4 linked regions of the Homo sapiens genome follow. The protein of the gene in region 2 interacts with the protein of the main gene of each other region in a pairwise test. Each region holds a gene or a part of one and is shown on either strand. Other genes may lie near its edges.

Region 1 (2,648 bases), on a different chromosome or scaffold from region 2:
AGCACAGATGATCAGTCACATGTTTCAACATTCCTTAGTGAGGTTAGATTAGGTTCAGTTTCCCCACAGTGTGCTTTTTGCTGCTCGTTAATATGTGCCTTGAGAACACTGGGAAGCCGTTCATTTTTAAATGCTTTGAGTATACTGGGCATCATCTCATAGGTGCCTTACTCCAACAGGGCCCTTCTGTTAGGGCCTGGTTTAAAATACTGCAAGTATTTTTTTGATTGTATATGTGTCGAGTTCCATCTCTCCTTGTTCTGCATCACCTTGAGAGATAAGTTAACTCGGTTGATCCTGTAGTTGGTGGTATTGCTATAGGAAAATAGAGACCACAGTATCCTTTTGGATGTATTCACAACCCTGACCGCACACTCAGATGACCTCGGGCACATGCCTTTAGAAAATCCAGATGCTTGGGCTTCACCCAACAATAACTGAAGCAACATCCCTGGTTGGGGGGACTCAGCGTCCATGTAGTTGAATGTACCCCCACCCCAGGTGAGTCTGAAGTGCTACCTGGATTGAGGGCTACGGCTTTATGGAGTTCTTGAGGGTATATAGTTTTGCTTTTTAAAAAATAACCAAAAGAAGATTCCCATTACAATTTGATGCAGGAACAGGGGTAGGGGGGCAGGGAAAATCATTCCCCATCCTTTTGCCCTATAACAGAGTTTCTCAACCTTGACGCTATTGACATTTTGAATCAGTTGGGGGCTGTCCTGTGTACTCTGGGATTTTTAGAAGCATCCTTGGCCTCTCCCATTAGATGCCAGTAGCACCCTTCCTCAAGTTTTGGCAACCAAAAATGTCTCCAGACACTGCCAAATGTCCCCTGAGGAGCAAAATGATCTCCTCCTCCTTTCCTTCCCTGAGCCTCCTCCCAGTTGTGAACCACTGTCCTAAAATGTAAACTGTTGGGTGTTCCCTAAGCAAGGTTTGTGCTAGCTAGTTCACTTTTCACTTATGAATTGAAGCATTGGAATAGCTCTGAATACAGGATGTAAAAACAAACACGACTTCACATACTCTTAGGATTCACTGTGAGCTCATTATTTTTGAGTACCTTAATTTGCTCAAGTTATAAAATAAAAATGTTTGCATCTAGAAATATGCCCTTATTTTTAAAGATAAAAGAACACCATTAAACATAAATTTTATTTGTATTATTGGAATTTTTGTATAGCTGTGTAATTCCCAAGTTAGCTTATTTAAGCCTCCATTAGTGAGGCTAAGCTTTAAATTTCTTTCACTCTGTTCTAAATTAAAAACCTAACAAGCTTATTTCAATTAGCTACCGGAAAAGAGAGAACATAGCCTAAAAATGCCTTCTACAAAAAAACCCCAGAAAATGGTCTTAAATAGTTCAATATTATTTCCTTATAACAATGTTCTATCTTGGATGCTTTTTTTTTTTAAAAAAAAGGAGTCTTAGATCAATAGCACCATTGTATGACTTGTCTTATGATCTTTCTCCAGGGCCCCCTTCTTTGATGCAGTTATGCCGCCTTAGAATTCGGAAGTGTTTTGGAATCCAGCAGCATCATAAGATAACCAAACTCGTCCTCCCAGAGGATCTGAAACAGTTTCTCCTACATCTTTAAATGCATCTAGGGAATGGATTCACAAACGATGTGAAAACATTATTGAGTGTTGTAGCCACTAGAATTTTAAAATCAAGTTGGATTTATAGAGTTTGACTAGTTTTTTCGATTAGATTTGTATTTGTTATAAACTTGTTTATGGAGTTTGACTAATTTTTTCTATTCAATTTGTATTTGTTAAACTCAAGCCAGGGTTGAAAGACACTGCATACGTTTGTATTATTAGTTAGAAGGCATGAAGACTTTTTTCCCTGCATGGAGAGTGTCATAAGTTATTGTTTTGCATATCTACTGCATGCCAAGCACTTTCTGCATCATCTAATTTAGCCCTCACAGCCACTGGGTCAAGATGTCCAATTTTCCAGAGTAAGGATAGAGGAGTCAAATTCAAATACAGGTTTTCTGACATTAACTTATGTGATGACTTGATCGAGGCAGGCTTTTCCAGCATCACTGTCCTGGTTCCATCTCTGCTATATGGGAATGAAAATAAAGAAACATATTTCTTGGCTTGTCTAATTTGTTTTAAGCTTCCCTGTTGTTACAACAAAACCACTACTGTCCTAGCATAGTGTGGGCGCCAGTTCTTTTTTTCAACCAAAACACTATACATATTAAGCATATTCTAGAACCTTGCTGCTTAATACAGTAGCAACTAGTTCAGTGGTTCTCCACTGGGGTTAATTTTGTTACCCAGTGATGTTTAACAATAACTGGAGACATTTTGTTTGTGACAACTGAGGAGGGGTGCTACAGGCATGTAGTGGGTAGAGGTCTGGAATGCTGCAAAGCCTCTTACAATGTACAGGACAGCCCCACCGCAAAGAACTTTCCAGTCCAAACTGTTAATACTGTAGTGCCCAGGTTGAGAAACCCTGCTGTAGCCATGTGCCTATTTAGAAGTGTAAATTAATTAAAATTAGGTAAAATTAAAAATCCAGTTTCTCAGTGTCATTAGCCACATTTCAGGTATAAAATATGCACAAATGGCTAGTGGCTACTGTATTGAACAGTGCAGGTACAGATTATTGCAGAAGAAAGTTC
Region 2 (7,051 bases):
GGAGGGTCTCAGGTCGACGGCTGAGCGAGCCACACTGACCCACCTCCGTGGCGCAGGAGCGGCGAGTGGTGGAAGGCGCAGTCCCTGACCACGGGCCAGGAAGGCTTCATCCCCTTCAATTTTGTGGCCAAAGCGAACAGCCTGGAGCCCGAACCGTAAGTGGGGACCCGTCGTGGGGGTGGGTAGGAGCAGATCTAGGGATCCTGGAGCAGGGAGTAGGCCTGGGGTGGCGGTGAAGGCTTGAGGGCCACGGAGGAAGATCCGACGACAGCCGACGGCCTTCGTTCGCTTCCGCCCTGCACAGCTGGTTCTTCAAGAACCTGAGCCGCAAGGACGCGGAGCGGCAGCTCCTGGCGCCCGGGAACACTCACGGCTCCTTCCTCATCCGGGAGAGCGAGAGCACCGCGGGTGAGCGGGCGGCGGTCTCGACCGGGCGCGGGGGTGCCCCGGGGTGTGCCCGAGGGGGGGCGCAGGGTGAGCCCGAGGTGGAGACACGGGGTGAGTCGGAGGGGGACGCGGGATGAGCCCGAGGTGGGGGCGCGGGATGACCCGGAGTTGGGGGTGCTGGGTGAGCCCAAGGTGGGGGCGCGGTGGCGGGCCAGACTCACTGCGTTCTTTCGTCGCTTTGTCCATCCATTCATTCATTCAGGATCGTTTTCACTGTCGGTCCGGGACTTCGACCAGAACCAGGGAGAGGTGGTGAAACATTACAAGATCCGTAATCTGGACAACGGTGGCTTCTACATCTCCCCTCGAATCACTTTTCCCGGCCTGCATGAACTGGTCCGCCATTACACCAGTGAGCCCGACGGGACCCCTCCCCCGTGCCCTATCAGCCTATCTCCCCTCAGTCCCCCTCAGGTGTCCCCCATCCATCTTTCAATGCCCTACTCCATTCCCCGCAGTGGGTGAGGTGTGGAACCTGACCCTACGGCCCCAAGTGTTTGGGTGACAGCCCCACACCCCCTTGCTAGTCCACTTCACCTAGATGGGGGCTTGGAGAAGTGGGGGAGGTGGTGTCAATACGAGGCCTGCCCTATTGACAGCCTTCACCCCTCCCTCGTCCTCGCAGATGCTTCAGATGGGCTGTGCACACGGTTGAGCCGCCCCTGCCAGACCCAGAAGCCCCAGAAGCCGTGGTGGGAGGACGAGTGGGAGGTTCCCAGGGAGACGCTGAAGCTGGTGGAGCGGCTGGGGGCTGGACAGTTCGGGGAGGTGTGGATGGGTGAGTGTGGCCTCCAGGACTGCCTGGGAAGAGGGGAACGGGAGGGGCCGCTGAGGTGATGAGAGTCCCAGGACAGCTGCCTGGCGACTTTCCCACTCCTTCCCTTCCCCGACCCAGGGTACTACAACGGGCACACGAAGGTGGCGGTGAAGAGCCTGAAGCAGGGCAGCATGTCCCCGGACGCCTTCCTGGCCGAGGCCAACCTCATGAAGCAGCTGCAACACCAGCGGCTGGTTCGGCTCTACGCTGTGGTCACCCAGGAGCCCATCTACATCATCACTGAATACATGGAGAATGGTGGGTGCTACCCGAGTCGGCTACCAGGGGATACTGCTCTCCCTGCTGTCCCTGCCAGAGGGTGGAAATACACCTTTTCTTCTGGCCCAAAGCTCAAGCAAGGAGGGTTTCTTGAGCTTTCCTGCCCCCTGGAGACTCACCTCCAGCCGGGCGCGGTGGCTCAGGCCTGTAATCCCAGCACTTTGGGAGCCGAGGCGGGCAGATCACGAGGTCAGGAGTTCGAGACCAGCCTGACCAATATGGTGAAACTCTGTCTCTACTAAAAATACAAAAAGTAGCCAGGTGTGGTGGCACATGCCTGTAATCCCAGCTACTCAGAAGACTGAGGCAGGAGAATCCCTTTAATCCGGGAGGTGGAGGCTACAGTTGCAGTGAGCTGAGATCATGCCACTGAACTCCAGCCTGGGTGACAGAGCAAGACTCTATCAAAAAAAAAAAAAAAAAAAAGACTCACCTCCAGGCATGAGAAAAAGGTGTATCCTCTGATCTGATCCTGTCTGGGGGCAAGCCTAAGGTGGCAAGAATGTTCTGGAAGAGCATTCACCCCAACCTTCCCTGACCTGCCATTCTGTTTGCCTTCTTCAAAGCCCTACCTTGATCTCAGGATGCTTGATCTCAGAAAGCAAGTGGGTCCCTAGCCCTGTTTCTCTCCCTTCTGCCCCTGAGCCCTAGGAGGGCAGATCTGCCCCCAAAGCCCTCTTTTTCAGTTCTGAGTGAGACCCCCACCCCTGCACCCCTCTTGGTCTGTTACTGGACAGAGTGAGAGCCCCAGGAAGAGGAATATGAGTTTCTAGCTTCAGCTTTGTTCACACCGATTTGCCGTGTGACAGGCCAAGTGCCTGCACTGTCTCTGGTGCTCAGTTTCCCCAAGTATAACAGCAGAAATCTAAATGGGCTCACCAGAAATAATACAGAGTATTCATCAAGGCCTCTAGAGTCTGACTGCCTGGGTCAGAAGCCTGGCTTCATGATTTTATGGCTTTGTGATAATTATATCACCTCTTTCTGCCATGGTTTCCTACTATAATAACGCGTTAGTAACTTCCTCACAGGGTCTTGTGAGGATGAAATAATTAATGCATACAGAGCAGTTAGAACTATGCCTACTTCCAGGTGCTGTGGCTCAAGCCTATAACTCCAGCACTTTGGGAGGCCAAGGTGGGTGGATCACTTGAGCCCAGAAGTTCAAGACCAGTCTGTGCAACATAGCGAGACTTCATTCCTACAAAAAAATGTTTAAAAATTAGCTGGGCATAGTGGTGTATGCCTGTAGTCCCAGCTACTTGGGAGGCTGAGGTGGGAGGATCACTTGAGCCCAGGAGGTTGAGGCTGCACTGAGCTGTGATTGCACCACTGCACTCCAACCTGGGTAACAGAGCGAGACCTTGTCTCAAAACAAAAAACCCACAAAACTATGGCTACCATATAGTAACTGATCAATAAGTTTGTTGCTGTTATCTGGCTCTGATTCTTTGGGAGTGTAAGATCTATCCTTTTTTCAGGAAGAGAAACAAGCTGTTCATTGGCTAATGGGAAATGGCAAATAGATTATGTCATGTGTATCTTTTTTTTTTTTGAGTCTCACTCTGTCCTCCAGGCTGGAGTGCAGTGGCATGATCTCGGCTCACTTCAGCCTCCCCCTCCTGGGTTCAAATGATTCTCATGCCTCAGTCTCCCAAGTAGCTGGGACTACAAGCATGTGCCACCATGCCTGGCTAATTTTTGTATTTTTAGTAGAGACAGGTTTTCGCCTTGTTGGCTAGGCTGGTCTCGATCTCCTGTCCTCAGGTGATCCTCCCGCCTTGGCCTCCCAAAGTGCTGGGATTACAGATGTGAGCCACCATGCCCAGCCTATCATGTGTATCGACTTTGATTGGTAGTTGCTTGTAGTGCTGGAGAAGGATTCTGAGGTTCATTGGAAGTGAGTGCCAGGAATGATTAGTAACATCTGCCATGGATACAATGGAAGAATGGCAGTATATCTATGTCTATGTATTTGCTGTGTGTAGGTGAGGTCTTTGTCTTTGGTAACTAGTTCAGCACTCAAAGTGGGGACACTCAGGTTGCTGTCATCCTTTTACAGGGTTTTAATCTCTTGGGAAGGGCCATTGGTCACTCACTGCATCCTAGCAACTCCCATCCATGTCCAGCTGCCCTCCACTATTAGAGAGGTGGTCCCTCAGACCCCCAGACCCCCTCTTTCTTATTCCATCCAATATATTCAGCACATAGTTATTGTTTCTTACTCTCGGCTGGGCACCAGGAACATGGATGGATGAAACAAGGTTCCTGTTGTCAGGGAAACCTGATTTTAGTTACAGCTACTGGGGAAACCAGAGTTTGTGCCATGGGAAAGTTCCAGCATGCCCATGGGAGTGTAGATGATGATCCAGTTTATTATGCCTGGTAGGATCTAGAGAGGCTTCCTAGTGGGGCAGTCTAGCAGGGCCACGAAAGAAAAGTAGAATTTTTTTTAGCAGGCAGAGATGAAACAAAGAGGCTTTGGGGTGAGAGCCTAGTGGTCTGAGTGCAGGATCTCAAAATTGCTAAACTGTTTGAAGTCAAAGGCAGAGTGGGGGAAAGAGAAGAAGCTACCAGTGTGGACCATGCCAAGCTTAGGATACTAGTTGAGGATTCTAGGTTCTACCTTATTGGTGATGAAAAACCTACAGATCCCTCCCAGCATGCTCTACCCTAGCCCCTCTGCAAAAAAACCTTTACATATCCTGGGCATCCTTACCCTGAACACACACTCCTCCATTCTCACTCTTCAATCTTCCTTTTCACATGTCAGACACACTTCTAGACTCCCAGTTGGAGGAGAAAGGTCTGGGGGCCTCCCCCTGGGGCAACTTGGGCCAGCAACTCTTGCTTCTGCCCACAGGGAGTCTAGTGGATTTTCTCAAGACCCCTTCAGGCATCAAGTTGACCATCAACAAACTCCTGGACATGGCAGCCCAAGTAAGGAGACTGGGGAGGGGGGCTGGGCAAGGGAACAGACCAGTGACGTGAAGACATCTGGCTCAGGACCGCTGATCTGTGTTTGGCCTGCAGATTGCAGAAGGCATGGCATTCATTGAAGAGCGGAATTATATTCATCGTGACCTTCGGGCTGCCAACATTCTGGTGTCTGACACCCTGAGCTGCAAGATTGCAGACTTTGGCCTAGCACGCCTCATTGAGGACAACGAGTACACAGCCAGGGAGGGTACGTGTGAGATTTAAGGGTGGTCTGGGCCCTGCAGGGTCTGGCCAAGCAGACCCAGGTGACCTCACTCTGCCTCCTCCTTAGGGGCCAAGTTTCCCATTAAGTGGACAGCGCCAGAAGCCATTAACTACGGGACATTCACCATCAAGTCAGATGTGTGGTCTTTTGGGATCCTGCTGACGGAAATTGTCACCCACGGCCGCATCCCTTACCCAGGTTAGAGCCAAGGGCAGGAACTGAAAGGGTGATGGGAAGGGCAAGTCCATGTCTTCCCATTCAATTCTTTCCAGTCTCAGAATCTGAAACTTTGTAGCTGCATCTCCTCTATCTTCTCAGGGGTATGAGTCCAACGTCCCCAGGCAGATGCCACATCTCCCAGGGCTGGCTTCCATCTCCGTATCTCTCTTTAATAACCCCAGCTCTTTTCTTTTTCTCTTTTTTTCTTTTTCTTTTTTTTTTTTTTTTTTTTTTTTTTTTTTGAGACGGAGTCTTGCTCTGTCTCCCAGGCTGGGGTGCAGTGGCGCCATCTTGGATCACTGCAACCTCTGCCTCCTGGGTTCAAGTGATTCTCCTGCCTCAGCCTCCCAAATAGCTAGGATTACAGGTACGTGCCACCATGCGCAGCTAATTTTTTGTATTTTTAGTAGAGACAGGGTTTCACCATGTTAGCCAGGATGGCCTCAATCTCCTGACCTCGTGATTGGCCTGCCTCGGCCTCCCAGTGTTGGGATTACAGGCGTGAGCCACCACACCCGGCCCCAGCTCTTTTCTTTAGTTCTGGCCCAGGCAGCCTGGTATGGTAGAAGAAGATCTAGCTCAGGAACAAGAGGCCTACCTTTTATCAGCAGATCTGCCACTGTTGCTAACTTTCTGTTTGGCTTTGTTCAGATCATTACTGTAACTAGTGAAGCTAGTCACTTCACTTCTCTAAGCCTCAGTTTCCTGATACTAAAAATAAGAGACTAGGCCAGGTACAGTGGCTTATGCCTATAATCTCAGAACTTTGGGAGACCAAGGTGGGAGGACTGCTTGAGCCCAGGAGTTCGAGACCAGCCTGGGAAACTGGTCGAAACCCCATCTCTACAAAAACAAAAGTTAGCCAGGTTTGGTGGCATGTGCCTCTAGTCCCAGCTACTCAGAAGGCTGAGGTGGGAGGATCACCTGAGCCAGGGAGGCAGAGGTTGCAGTGAGCCAAGACCATGCCATAACACTCCAGCCTAGGGCAATAGACCAAGACCCTGTCTCAAAACAAGAAAAAGAGAGACTCCATCTCTACAAAAAAAAAAAAACAAACAAACAAAAAAAACATTTAAAAATTAGCTGGGCATGGTGGCACACACCCGTAGTTTCAGCTATTTGGGAGGCTGAGGTGGGAGGATCATTTGAGCCCAGGAGGTTGAGGGTGCAGTGAGCCATGATTGTTCTATTGCACTCCAGCCTGAGCAACAGAGAGAGAATTTGTCTCAAAAAAAAAAAAAAAGAAAAAGAAAAAGAAAAAAGAAAAAATGAGAGACCATTTGTGAAAGAGCCTGACTCATAGTAGGTTGTCAGTATACACTGACTCCTCCCACCATCTCCTGGACAAAGCCCTTTACCCCTGAATTCAGCCAAGACAGGGATGGAATTTTTGAAAGGAACTTGCTAAGAAACTCTGGGGAAAGGAAATGGAGCATAAAGACAGGAGTAGGGGGGTCATGCGGCACAGTGGCTAGATTTGTAGAAGCTTCCCATATCCCCAGAGCAAGGTGAACAGACCTTTGCTCCAAGGAAGGTAAAGACACCTTGGAAGGCCGGATGCAGTGGCTCACACCTGTAATACCAGCACTTTGGGAGGCCGAGGCGGGTGGATCACAAGGTCAGGTGTTCGAGACCAGCCTGACCAACATGGTGAAACCCCGTCTCTACTAAAAAAAATATATATAAAAATTATCTGGGCATGGTGGCACGCGCCTGTAACCCTAGATACTCAGGAGGCTGAGGCAGGAGAATTGCTTGAACCCAGGAGGCAGAGGTTGCAGTGAGCTGAGATCATGCCACCGCACTCCAGCCTGGGTGACAAAGTGAGACTCTGTTTCAAAACAAAAACAAAAACAACCACCTTGGAAACAGGTGAAAAGCTGAGGGGCTTCCCTGCCCTGGGCTTGCCCCAAACCAGCGTCCAGGGGTAGTGCTGGAGCTGGAAATACAGAAATATTCTCCAGTTATCCTGCCAGGGGTCCTCACTGCTCCTTCCCGGTTCCCACAGAGGCAAACCCATAGGGAATGTATCTATTAGAAGAAAATAGGCAGTGAAAGCATGATGATAAATGGCAACTGACATA
Region 3 (3,310 bases), on a different chromosome or scaffold from region 2:
TCCTTGCCACACAATTCCCTCTGGATTTTAAAAGGATTCCTTTTCATTACAGGTCACTTTTCACCCCTTCCCTTTCCTTTCAGGAGACATTTCTGCAGGTGTAGATGTCACGTCAATAAAGACAGTCATGACTGAGGGTGTGTGGGTGCCTCATTCTTAATAAGATTATGTGATTCAGGGTGCTTCCTTTTGTTTCAAGCTGAAGAACTCTCAGCCTCTGTTTGGGTTCCAGTGGTCTGGACGGTACCAATTGGGCATGCATAATGTTTCACCCACATGACAGCACCCAGCTCATACATACTAAGCACCTTCTCTGTATCTATTTTTCAATTTAAATAGAGACCTCAGGTTGTAAGACTAAAATGAGAAAATATCACACGTATGAAAATTCTTAATATCTGTTGAATCTCGAAGCATGTAAATCCTAGCGTGATCTGATAGCCCTGCACATATTTTATGAAAACTGCGTACAAAACTTTGTCAGGATGATTGCACTTTAATGCTTTAAAGTTTAATCTCAACGAATCTCAACAATCAAATGACTCCACTTGATTTATATATGTACATTTTATTAGAATTCTTCAGAACTGTCAACAATTGGACAACATACAGGAATAAAACACGTGGAACACCAACATCCTTTAAACTTACGCCGCTTATGTATTTACACATAAAGTTACTGTATATATAAAAAATATTTTCAAGGACTCATGGGCTTGGGAATATTCAAAAGACATTATTGCTACATTTCAATATTTACAAAAAAAGCCACAAAATAATTTCAAACATTAAGCCACTGCAAAGAAACATCTGATGTAAGAAAAAATTATAAAAATATAAACTTTCAAGAATATCCAAGACAAAACTCTCAATGAAGTGCCCCTGAAGTACCTAGACATCTATAACTAACAACCACTTTTCTTACTATCATTGAAGTCAATAGAAACACAAAGGAATTTTTCAGACAAAGTATGGCAAACAACAATCTCTTGGGTGACAACACAACCCCAAAATCTGTTAACTTTGGAAAGGTGCGAGAGCATAGAACTCCAGTGCAAATGGTTACTTCCAGATAACGGCCACAGTTCTCTAAATGTAGTCTAAGAAATGTAGAAGGGGGAAACCATAAAGGCAACATACCTGAATCTTTCAAGACAACACACAAACTCTGCCATGTACACATTTGCCTTTTATATTGGGCAGTGAGGAAGGGGAGTTTTTTGTTTTGTTTTGTTTTGTTTTTAAAGAGGTAAACTACAAGAATAATATCCAGGCTACAGTCTAAAGGGTAAAATTTAAATGTTTCAGTGAGACAGTAGCATTATGGAAGGTCTAAGGAACAGGTACAGTAAGATGAGTCTAAATAACAGAGTGCCTTAAGTGCAGGTGAACTGCAAATACATAGGGACTGATGCCTTCCACTTCCTCTGCACCACTATGGAAGCTTCTGGTAAGCTACTCTAGACAGCTATGTGAAAAGAAACAAGAGCAGTACTAATAATGAAAGCCAAGTTACTTTTCAGGTACTAAAGGACCCTCTTGGACTCAGGGCAAAAATACCCCTCCAAATATTTGTCTACACACATACAAACGTACATACACATATATAGATACTGGCCCGGTGTCCAGGACATGCCTGCGAAGGAGGCTAAACCTATACTTTATTTCCTGCTACATAAGAATCCAAACTAAGATGGCAGTGTTTTCCCACTCCTGTGGGAGCCATGCAGTGAATCAGTAACTTTGTCAAACAGCATCAAATCCATTGAGTACAATGCCATTCTGAAGCTGATAGGCTTGTTCCACAGAATCTACAGAATAAGTTCATCAGCTAAAAGAGGAGATTTTGTTCAAACTGTGCTTTGTGGTTATATTGTTTCCTTAAAAAATGGTATTAACTGTTTCCTTCAAACTTATATGGCTCTTAATCTACTTCTATACACAGTGGACATAATGCCAGGGTTGTATACAGAAACGAAACCTTATGGTGTTTTCCCCTCAAATGTATGAACACGGACAATTTATAGATGCGTATATACAAGTGCTGGCTAGGGAGGCCTTCTCTCCAATTCAATGCTCTAATAGCAAACTCTATTTAAAAACCAGGTCGGTAGTATAAAAGCTCATGCAGTGGTCCACAGAAGAGCATCTTTTGTTCACACTTGGGGATCATTTTTTTCATGGCCTATGTCTCATTCCCAGCATGAAATACTAGATTTCTTAAGCCCAGGTGTTCATACTCTGTCCTTTGTTCTAATGATGTTCTGTTTTCCACATAAAGGACTTAGGTTTTCAGCTTCTAATCTTGTATCATCATACTACTATGGATGGTTCTGAAGGCCAACTGTGATTACTACCATTTATTCAGGTAAACTATCAACCATATTTTTGGGCAGAATTGGAGAAGCCTTGGAAAGGACTCTGGCCCCCAGTCCATACCTCCCTCTCTTTTTCCAAATCAGAATGTTTTCTGTTCATGGTAGAAGCTACGTTGCTATTGGGAATATATACAGTTGGAACCTTTGCAATAGGATGGTGGCTGATGACAAAAATCATCGGCCACTAAAGTGTGCTCAGAAAGACAGGATTGCAGTGGGGTGCCCACTATCCTGGAGTTGGATGCAAGTTGAAAGAAAAGAAAATAACCATCATGGAAGCCAAAAGAAGAGATCATTCCTGGAGGGGTGACCCAAACACTGATTCTGCTCAGACATCGTCGTGCACAAGCAGAGGCTGGGAGGAGGAAGCGGTGCTGCCGACAGAATTGATCCGCACAGAATGGTCTACCACGGGCTTCTGTCGGTTGGGGCTGCAGTTTGCTAAGTTGGAGTAAATCTGGAGAAAACAAGCCCATAGTCAATACAGCAGTCCCTACAACGAACATAGCAACAAAAGGCATACTTACAGTGTCAAGATCACAACTAACTGATGGAAACTCTTAAGAGAGAAGTGGTTTCCAAGAACTTTGTGGCCAAAACCCAAGTCATACTGACAAAACAAATATAAGCTTTGTTTTCCCCCTTCATTTTTCCAAGGAAATAACTTTATACAAGAAGTGGGGACAAAACATGCACAAGCTTAGCTCTTCTAAAAGGGCACACCAGGCACCAAGCACTATCTTACCTATTTAAAAGGCTTGTAAATCTCTCCAGCAACTACAACCCAATAACCAATGTAATTTGCTGGGAAACCCACGGCCCTTCCAGGGGTCTCTTGTCAAGAATCAAAGCAACTGGGTGGAAAATGCTGTTCAATTTGAAACATGTTTTGACACCCAGAAGAACAAGCTTTAACCCAAAAATTATCAGTG
Region 4 (7,051 bases), on a different chromosome or scaffold from region 2:
ATCCTAAGGAAATAAACGCAGGAACAGAAAACCAAATATCACATGTTCTCACTTACAAGTGAGAGCTAAACATGGACATAAAGATGGCAACAACAGACACTGGGTACTACCAGAGAGGGGAAGGAGGCAGGTGGAAAGGGTTGAAAAACTAACGATTGGGTGCTATGTTCAGTTCCTGAGTGACAGGATCATTCATACCCTAAATCTCAGCATCGCACAATATACACAGGTAACAAACCTGCACATGCACCCCCCTAAAACTAAAATAAAAATTGAAATACAAAAGAATAAAAATTTTAAAAAGTGCATGTTAATTTTTAATCACATTCAGAAACTTTAAAAGATCTCTTGAAAAAATGTTTAGAGCAAATCCATCACTGTGCCAAAAGAGTCACCCAGGGAAACTCTCAGGATTAGTCTTCTGTATGCTCCCCACACAATATTAAGGATCTAAGCTTGAAGGTACTTTAACCAAAGTGGTGTATAAAAACACCATACAAAACCTTGCACTGGCTTAACAAAAAAAAGTCAGTATAGTAACTAATGTTCAGACTGTTGCAGAAAGGCGTGAATGGACAAGGCCAAACATAACAACATAAAGACAGCATGTGGGGCTCACACAGCTGCTGCATCATGCTAGACAGAGACTAGACAGAGATGGGGGCCTTAGATAAGTTTAGCGATTTAATATACTAGATTTATGTCATGACATAAAGAGAAGCTATAACAGATAAATTTCCCAAACTTTACAAAACTCCCTTTCCATCAGAAATATAAAATTTTCAATTGAAGAGGTCAAAATATAATTTGTCCTGTATTTCCAGTGACTCATCTGCTTTCCCAATATTTAATACAGTATGCTTAAAATACGTTTCTCTTAATACACACAAAACTTGGCTCAAAACAAACACTACAGTGACAGAAATAGTATGATGAAAATATCACTATCATGAATTGAGTGACAGGCAAAGGGTCTAAGATAATTATGTTTAAGTGTTCAGAACATCTATGTATTTCTGCAGTTTCAATTACTCATAAGTATTTGAAAAGCTCATCTGTATGCAAACTACAGCAGCTGACATCTATAATTGGGGCTATAAACAAGACTAGAATGTTACTGGTTTCTTATAGATCCTTCCAAAGACAATCTCAAAAACCAGACATATAGGGCAATGAACTAGTTATATGGAGCTCTGAAACTAATCAAGCCATATTTTATAGAATTAGATTTGCTTATAATGAGTTTTATATAAGAGATACTGAATAATAGATTAAGTCATTTATCTGATGTCATGAAATTTGAAATTAAAATAGATTCATCTGATGCTATGAATACTGAGAAAAATTATAGGACCAAACGAGACATTATTTTTGTTTAAGTGTTTGTGGATAAACTTTGCTTTGAGATCTGAATTTGGATTTTAAAATGTGTTTTTCTTGAAGTTATAACTTTGTAAAGTGAGTTTATGAAGTCATAACTTTGTAAAGTGAGTTTACAAAGTCTGCCTTGTAATGTTAAATACATTCTCAAGCCTCCTCTCCTGTATCATAACTATTTAAAAAGTAGAATAGTACAGGCCGGGCACAGTGGCTCACGCCTGTAATCCCAGCACTTTGGAAGGCCGAGGCAGGTAGATCCCGAGGTCAGGAGGTCGAGACCATCCTGGCTAACACGGTGAAACCCCGTCTCTACTAAAAATACAAAAAATTAGCTGGGCGTGGTGGCAGGTGCCTGTAGTCCCAGCTACTCGGGAAGCTGAGGCAGGAGAATGGCGTGAACCCCAGAGGCGGAGCTTGCAGTGAGCCGAGATCGCGCCACTGCACTCCAGCCTGGGCAACAGAGCGAGACTCTGTCTCAAAAAAAAAAAAAAAAAAAAGTAAAATAGTACTAAAGAAAAGTAAATTTTTTTTGAATACTATGACTTCAGGAACCTCTTTACTGTTTTGCTAAGTCTATTCTTGATTCTGGCAAAAACTATATGGGTATTTCAATCTGGGTGCTCTTTTTAAGTTCATTTTGTATCTAAGCAAATATGCCAAATAAATAATGTGGCCAACGAACTCACAATTGTCTCTGAACAGTTCAGTTAAATTTTAAAAGAATGAACACAATCTCCAGAAATAAGAACCTACTTTATTCTGTTCTATTAAGTTCTTTTACGTTAAAGAACTAGTGTGATTAGTCTCTAGTGTACTAGAATAATAGTACTTTCACTAAATACATAGGGATGTATAATTATAAAATATGTAGTATACATGATACATAGTATATATTCTGATATATACATAAAATATATATCATAATAATGTGGGATACATGAGTGATATCAGACCTAGAGGATACTAAAAGCTAATCATTAATTGATCTTAGGTCTTTTCTAACTTATAAACAGTGGTGTTTCCTGATTTCATATTATGCTTACCACATGGAATCACAACTGTTGAAATATACTGGAGTTTTCAAACTGTGCTCTACAGAGCTCAAGGGGAGAAAAGAGCAGCAGAGGAGCAAGGGAGGTAGGACTTAAAAGCTTTGTAACCTCACCCAAATCTTACTCCCTCCACATTTATGCGAGACCTCAAAATATAAAACTGTTAGGTTTGGAGTTAAAAAGTAGAGATCTGCCACTAACATGCACTCGTTACTGGAAAATAAGGAAAGCACCAGTTTAACATTAAAAAAGATATTTCAATATTTCAAAGAGTTCATGACACTTATATCTCAATCCTTCAGTGATCTGTATGAACCAATTATAAAGCTATACATGTCCAAACATATTTTTGCATATTATATGCAAAGAAAATGACTAGTAGTTGTCTAAAATAGATTTAGAGACAAAGAAAAAGGAAACAAAAGGAAGCATTATCCGATAGAAAGCCTCTGATGCTCACATCCTTTCTGAGATCCACACCGCAATCACAGCCCTGCTGCCAGGGCAGACTGGGTCGTCGTGGGTGTGACACACATAGACCAATCACATCATCTCTAAGCAATCTAAAGTGAGTAAATAATAAGTAAGGCAATGAGAAGCTGATGCAGAAGCTGCAAGGGCACATAAAAAGCAGCTAGGAGGCAGAACTGAGGCCATAGAAGGGGAGCATTGGAGGCCAAAGCTCTTGGAAAGCAGAATCCATTTAAGTAGAGGATACAGAGTAAGAAAACAAAAAAGAATCAGAAAAGAAAACAGAAAAGAAGGGAAGAATGTGAAAGAGAACAAACCAGATGCAAAGATTTCCCATAAAACAGAAATGCACAGAGAGAGCAGGACACAGCAACAGTCCCCTAGAATTGCTTCAGTTCCTGATAACCTCCTTGTTGAAGGAGGTTAACCTCCTGTTGAAACGAGGAGGTTATCCTTACTTACAAACAAAACCAAATCTTTTTTCTTAAGATAGTCTGAGCCTCAGTCTCTTTTCCTCACAACTAGGACTTAATTAGAACTAATATTAATGATCTAAGCCCAGGTTAAGGAGAAATTGATGCCAACATTATGTGGTCTTAAAAAGCTACATATAGCACATGAGACTTTTCAAATGTGCTGAAACACCCTAATGTAAGCCAGATATTGTATCATTCATCACATTTACATTTATGCTAATTTACTTGGTTGTCAAGATTAAGCCACACTAACAGCATGGTGCAACAAATCAAATTGTCTGTGTTTTAACAACTTAAACCCCAATTTAAAAAACCTGGGTAGGCATTACCCAATTTGGCTGAACAGTTTCTTTTACAGACTTCTTAACAAACTATGTTACCTTAGAACTTAATGTTACTTATGAAGGCCAGCATGGAAAAAAAAATGACAGACTAGAAGCATGTATTACCCCAGCAAAGGCAAAGTAATTTTTAAGAAGTTGTTATATGAACAGAATGGAAAGATTATACAGTCTCACTGTTCTTAAATAATTATGTCAAATACATTAATAATCTTAAGTCTGATTTGATATTATATACTCTGGAGAAGAGGTTACTAAATAGCAGCTGAAGGCCATTATCTAGCTTGCAGAAGTGTTTGGGTTGGCCTGCAATGTTTTCTTAATAATTAAATTAGTTGATAGAACTTTAAAAATTGAGAGATAATACATATAAAATCTGAAATCTCTGGCTTTTCCTGATATACCAGAAGATTTGCCTGCATGGGTGCATCATTTCACAAGTCAACAAAGGATTGTAGCAGTGTAGGTTAGTTACTCCCATTAGATGGGGCTACGGCAGTCCAGTTTCTTCTAATTCTCCCCAGTTGTCCGCTCACCCCGTGAGTATTTCAGCTTGTAACCTCTGCTCTAGAGATAGGAGACTTATAAATATCACCTCACATCAACATGTGATATCATAATTGTTAATTTATAAATGGCAGTACTGCTTTGCTTAAATAACTTGATGGCTATGGAACTATGAAATATTTCAGAATTTCTAGTCCAAATTCTATTTTGGATTTAATGGCAGTTAAAGATAGATCTAACTTGGCACTCCCCAAGCCTTTTACTTTGCCATGCTCTCCTTACCTTTTCTGTCTGGCTTGAGGTTCCTATCCACGGGGGGTGGTTCACAGTCTGCAACAGGAACTGGCCTTCTGGGAGGGGTTTTTGGGCTGGACCTGAAGCCCATATGAGCAGGAGGAGGAACTTGCATTCCAAATGAGGAAAAATCAAATGTTCCTGGAGTCATTGGCACATAATTTGCTTCCTGAATTGGTTCTGTAAAACTGCTGGAATGTTGTCGTGGTGGTGAATTGGGATTCATTGGGACGTAATTTTCATCCAGTTCTTCACTTGAAACACTTCCCACTGTCAACACATTTTTGACTTTCTAAAACACATATATATTTCTTTTAATAAACAAAAACTCTTGTCACACATGAAAACACAATTGTAAGTCACACTCATTCATATGGATCTCAGCGTACTTTTATTTCATGATATCACTTAGTCTCATGGCACTAATTATGAAGATTTAGACAATGAAATACACTTGATGATGCCAAGGTCAATTATACTTACAAAGTGGTTATGGAAGCCTTCAAGTGAACTAGATCTATCACTTGGAAATGCTCGTGGAATATCATAGCAGTCTTGAGAACTAGCATCTAAAATAAAGAACAAACTATCAACATTTATTCCCATCTTTGCCAGCTCTCAGGGTCATTGGGATGACCTATTATCTTTCTCTCATTATACATATGCATACACACATGCACACACACAGAATTTTAAAAAGGATGCTCATAGAACTGTGTCTTGAATTGGCATATTAAACCACTAGAAAATGCAGACACTCACTCATATGCTAACCAATACCAATATCTAATTTTGAGTGTGAGTGAATGTCTAAGTCTGGGATAAGATAGGTTATCTAAAGATGAAGAGAAACACCTCTATTTTCTCATCGTTTGCACCACCTTGGGCATAACTTACATCTCACTAACTGATAACCAGGTTATACAGTCACTTCAAGAAAGGAGTTAGATACTGTTATTGAATGGTGAAATAAGTACTGATTTAAGTAATAATCACAGATACATTAAAATCTTGGAGATAGCTGAGGAAAACTCTACCACAAAATACAGAAATTTTAGCACATACTGTTTAGGATATGTGCATTAAAAACTTTAGCTTTCTATTTGTAGGACTTTGAGAATCTCAGAGAATCACCCAGACTCATTTTTTTCTTCTCCTCTCAAGGTCTGTAACTTTTGGATACAGACTCTAGGAGACAGTATAGGAAAGTATACTCACTAGCAATGAGTGAAGTGGGTAGTGATAAGGGGAAAGAAGATTCAGCTCTTTAAACACAAGTAAAAATCAAACAGCATAATGGCTTGACTGGAACAGAATATCACCTGTTAGACACAACATAAAAACTGCTTATATAGGAAGGAAGGAAATAGAGCCCAACAGATGTGACTTAGAAGCGGCCATAATGGCACACAAATACAGGAAAGGGTATGACTCGGAGAGGCTTTGTGGCTGGTCCATTTCCTGCCCTTCTGTCCCAACAGAGGGCCTATCCACCCAGGATTATAGAAAGTGGGAGAGAGAAGGGCACACTTCCTGAGGCAGGAAGGCATTACTAAGGCCATACTTCTTCAGGGGTGAGAAACTCCAACTCTTTTTCCCTTCCAGCAGAGCATGAATGCAATATACCCTTCCAGGTAGCTGTAGAGCTGGAAAAAAATGGACTGTATTTTGTAGCATAGTATATTTAACTACGCTTAAAAGAACAAATATTCAGAAAAATCGATTTTCTATCATTAACCTCTAATAGAGAAGAAGTCAACTAGAGCTGACCTTTTCGCAATTTGTTTAAATCCACAGTGGAAATGGTATTACTACGTGAAGGCGACATCCCTGCTGTAGGGATACAGTAACTACTGTCAGTGTCTGAGGCGGTGCGTGGGATACTACACGTTTCCACAGGAGATCGGTCATGAGCTGGATGTGGTTTCGGTGGCCGAGGTGGAGGAATATCTGGAATAGTGTCTAGCTTTGATGTCTGTCCCAAGGTTCCTTCTGGAAATGTTCGTGGAATCTGATAAGTATTACCAGGTGTTGGAGGAATGTCATAACTAATAGATACATGCCTCATTTGAGTCTCTACACTCGATGTCCCAGATGGGGTATTAAAAACATAGAGTTCTCCATCTGCTTCAGTACTTGATGGAGACACCTTTGGTAAAACATCATGGGAATAACTCCTGGGCAGGTTATAAAGGCTGGAGTCAACTGAAGCAGATGGGGCACGTGAAGGTGGAGAGTCGTATATCATTTGCTGCTGAAAAAAGCCATTCATTCCATGTTTGCTCTGGGAGGAAGCAGGATTTTTATGAGAAGGGACGTTATCATTGCAGTCTGTTTCAGAAGAGGTGGATTTTGCAGAATCAGCATGCGTTCTAAATAAAAATTGTTAATGACAGAATAAACAAGGTGGAGACTAAGAATACATTTTTTATAAACATGTTTATCGCTAAGCAATCAAAAGATAGGGCTTTTCTCATTAGATTTTTTGTGTGATCCATAGGATTTAAAGCACAAATGTTCTTTAGCCTTT

Evidence for each region.
Region 1: the proteins of LCK (region 2) and ASB9 interact in binary tests that used the Homo sapiens proteins (3 or more experiments, as listed by UniProt).
Region 3: the proteins of LCK (region 2) and KIT interact in binary tests that used the Homo sapiens proteins (3 or more experiments, as listed by UniProt).
Region 4: the proteins of LCK (region 2) and GAB1 interact in binary tests that used the Homo sapiens proteins (3 or more experiments, as listed by UniProt).

Annotation. Positions count from the first base shown.
Region 1 is NC_000023.11:15,243,462-15,246,109, reverse strand, and holds the end of ASB9 (ankyrin repeat and SOCS box protein 9), read left to right. Parts: intron 1-1,479; coding exon 1,480-1,604; 3' UTR 1,605-2,123; downstream 2,124-2,648. UniProt on the Homo sapiens protein: Substrate-recognition component of a cullin-5-RING E3 ubiquitin-protein ligase complex (ECS complex, also named CRL5 complex), which mediates the ubiquitination and subsequent proteasomal degradation of target proteins.
Region 2 is NC_000001.11:32,275,265-32,282,315, forward strand, and holds part of LCK (tyrosine-protein kinase Lck), read left to right. Parts: intron 1-56; coding exon 57-155; intron 156-304; coding exon 305-408; intron 409-649; coding exon 650-799; intron 800-1,072; coding exon 1,073-1,225; intron 1,226-1,342; coding exon 1,343-1,522; intron 1,523-4,406; coding exon 4,407-4,483; intron 4,484-4,576; coding exon 4,577-4,730; intron 4,731-4,814; coding exon 4,815-4,946; intron 4,947-7,051. UniProt on the Homo sapiens protein: Non-receptor tyrosine-protein kinase that plays an essential role in the selection and maturation of developing T-cells in the thymus and in the function of mature T-cells. Plays a key role in T-cell antigen receptor (TCR)-linked signal transduction pathways.
Region 3 is NC_000004.12:54,737,954-54,741,263, reverse strand, and holds the end of KIT (mast/stem cell growth factor receptor Kit isoform 1 precursor), read right to left. Parts: intron 2,836-3,310; coding exon 2,707-2,835; 3' UTR 549-2,706; downstream 1-548. UniProt on the Homo sapiens protein: Tyrosine-protein kinase that acts as a cell-surface receptor for the cytokine KITLG/SCF and plays an essential role in the regulation of cell survival and proliferation, hematopoiesis, stem cell maintenance, gametogenesis, mast cell development, migration and function, and in melanogenesis.
Region 4 is NC_000004.12:143,437,841-143,444,891, reverse strand, and holds part of GAB1 (GRB2-associated-binding protein 1), read right to left. Parts: intron 6,894-7,051; coding exon 6,292-6,893; intron 5,091-6,291; coding exon 5,005-5,090; intron 4,814-5,004; coding exon 4,510-4,813; intron 1-4,509. UniProt on the Homo sapiens protein: Adapter protein that plays a role in intracellular signaling cascades triggered by activated receptor-type kinases. Plays a role in FGFR1 signaling. Probably involved in signaling by the epidermal growth factor receptor (EGFR) and the insulin receptor (INSR).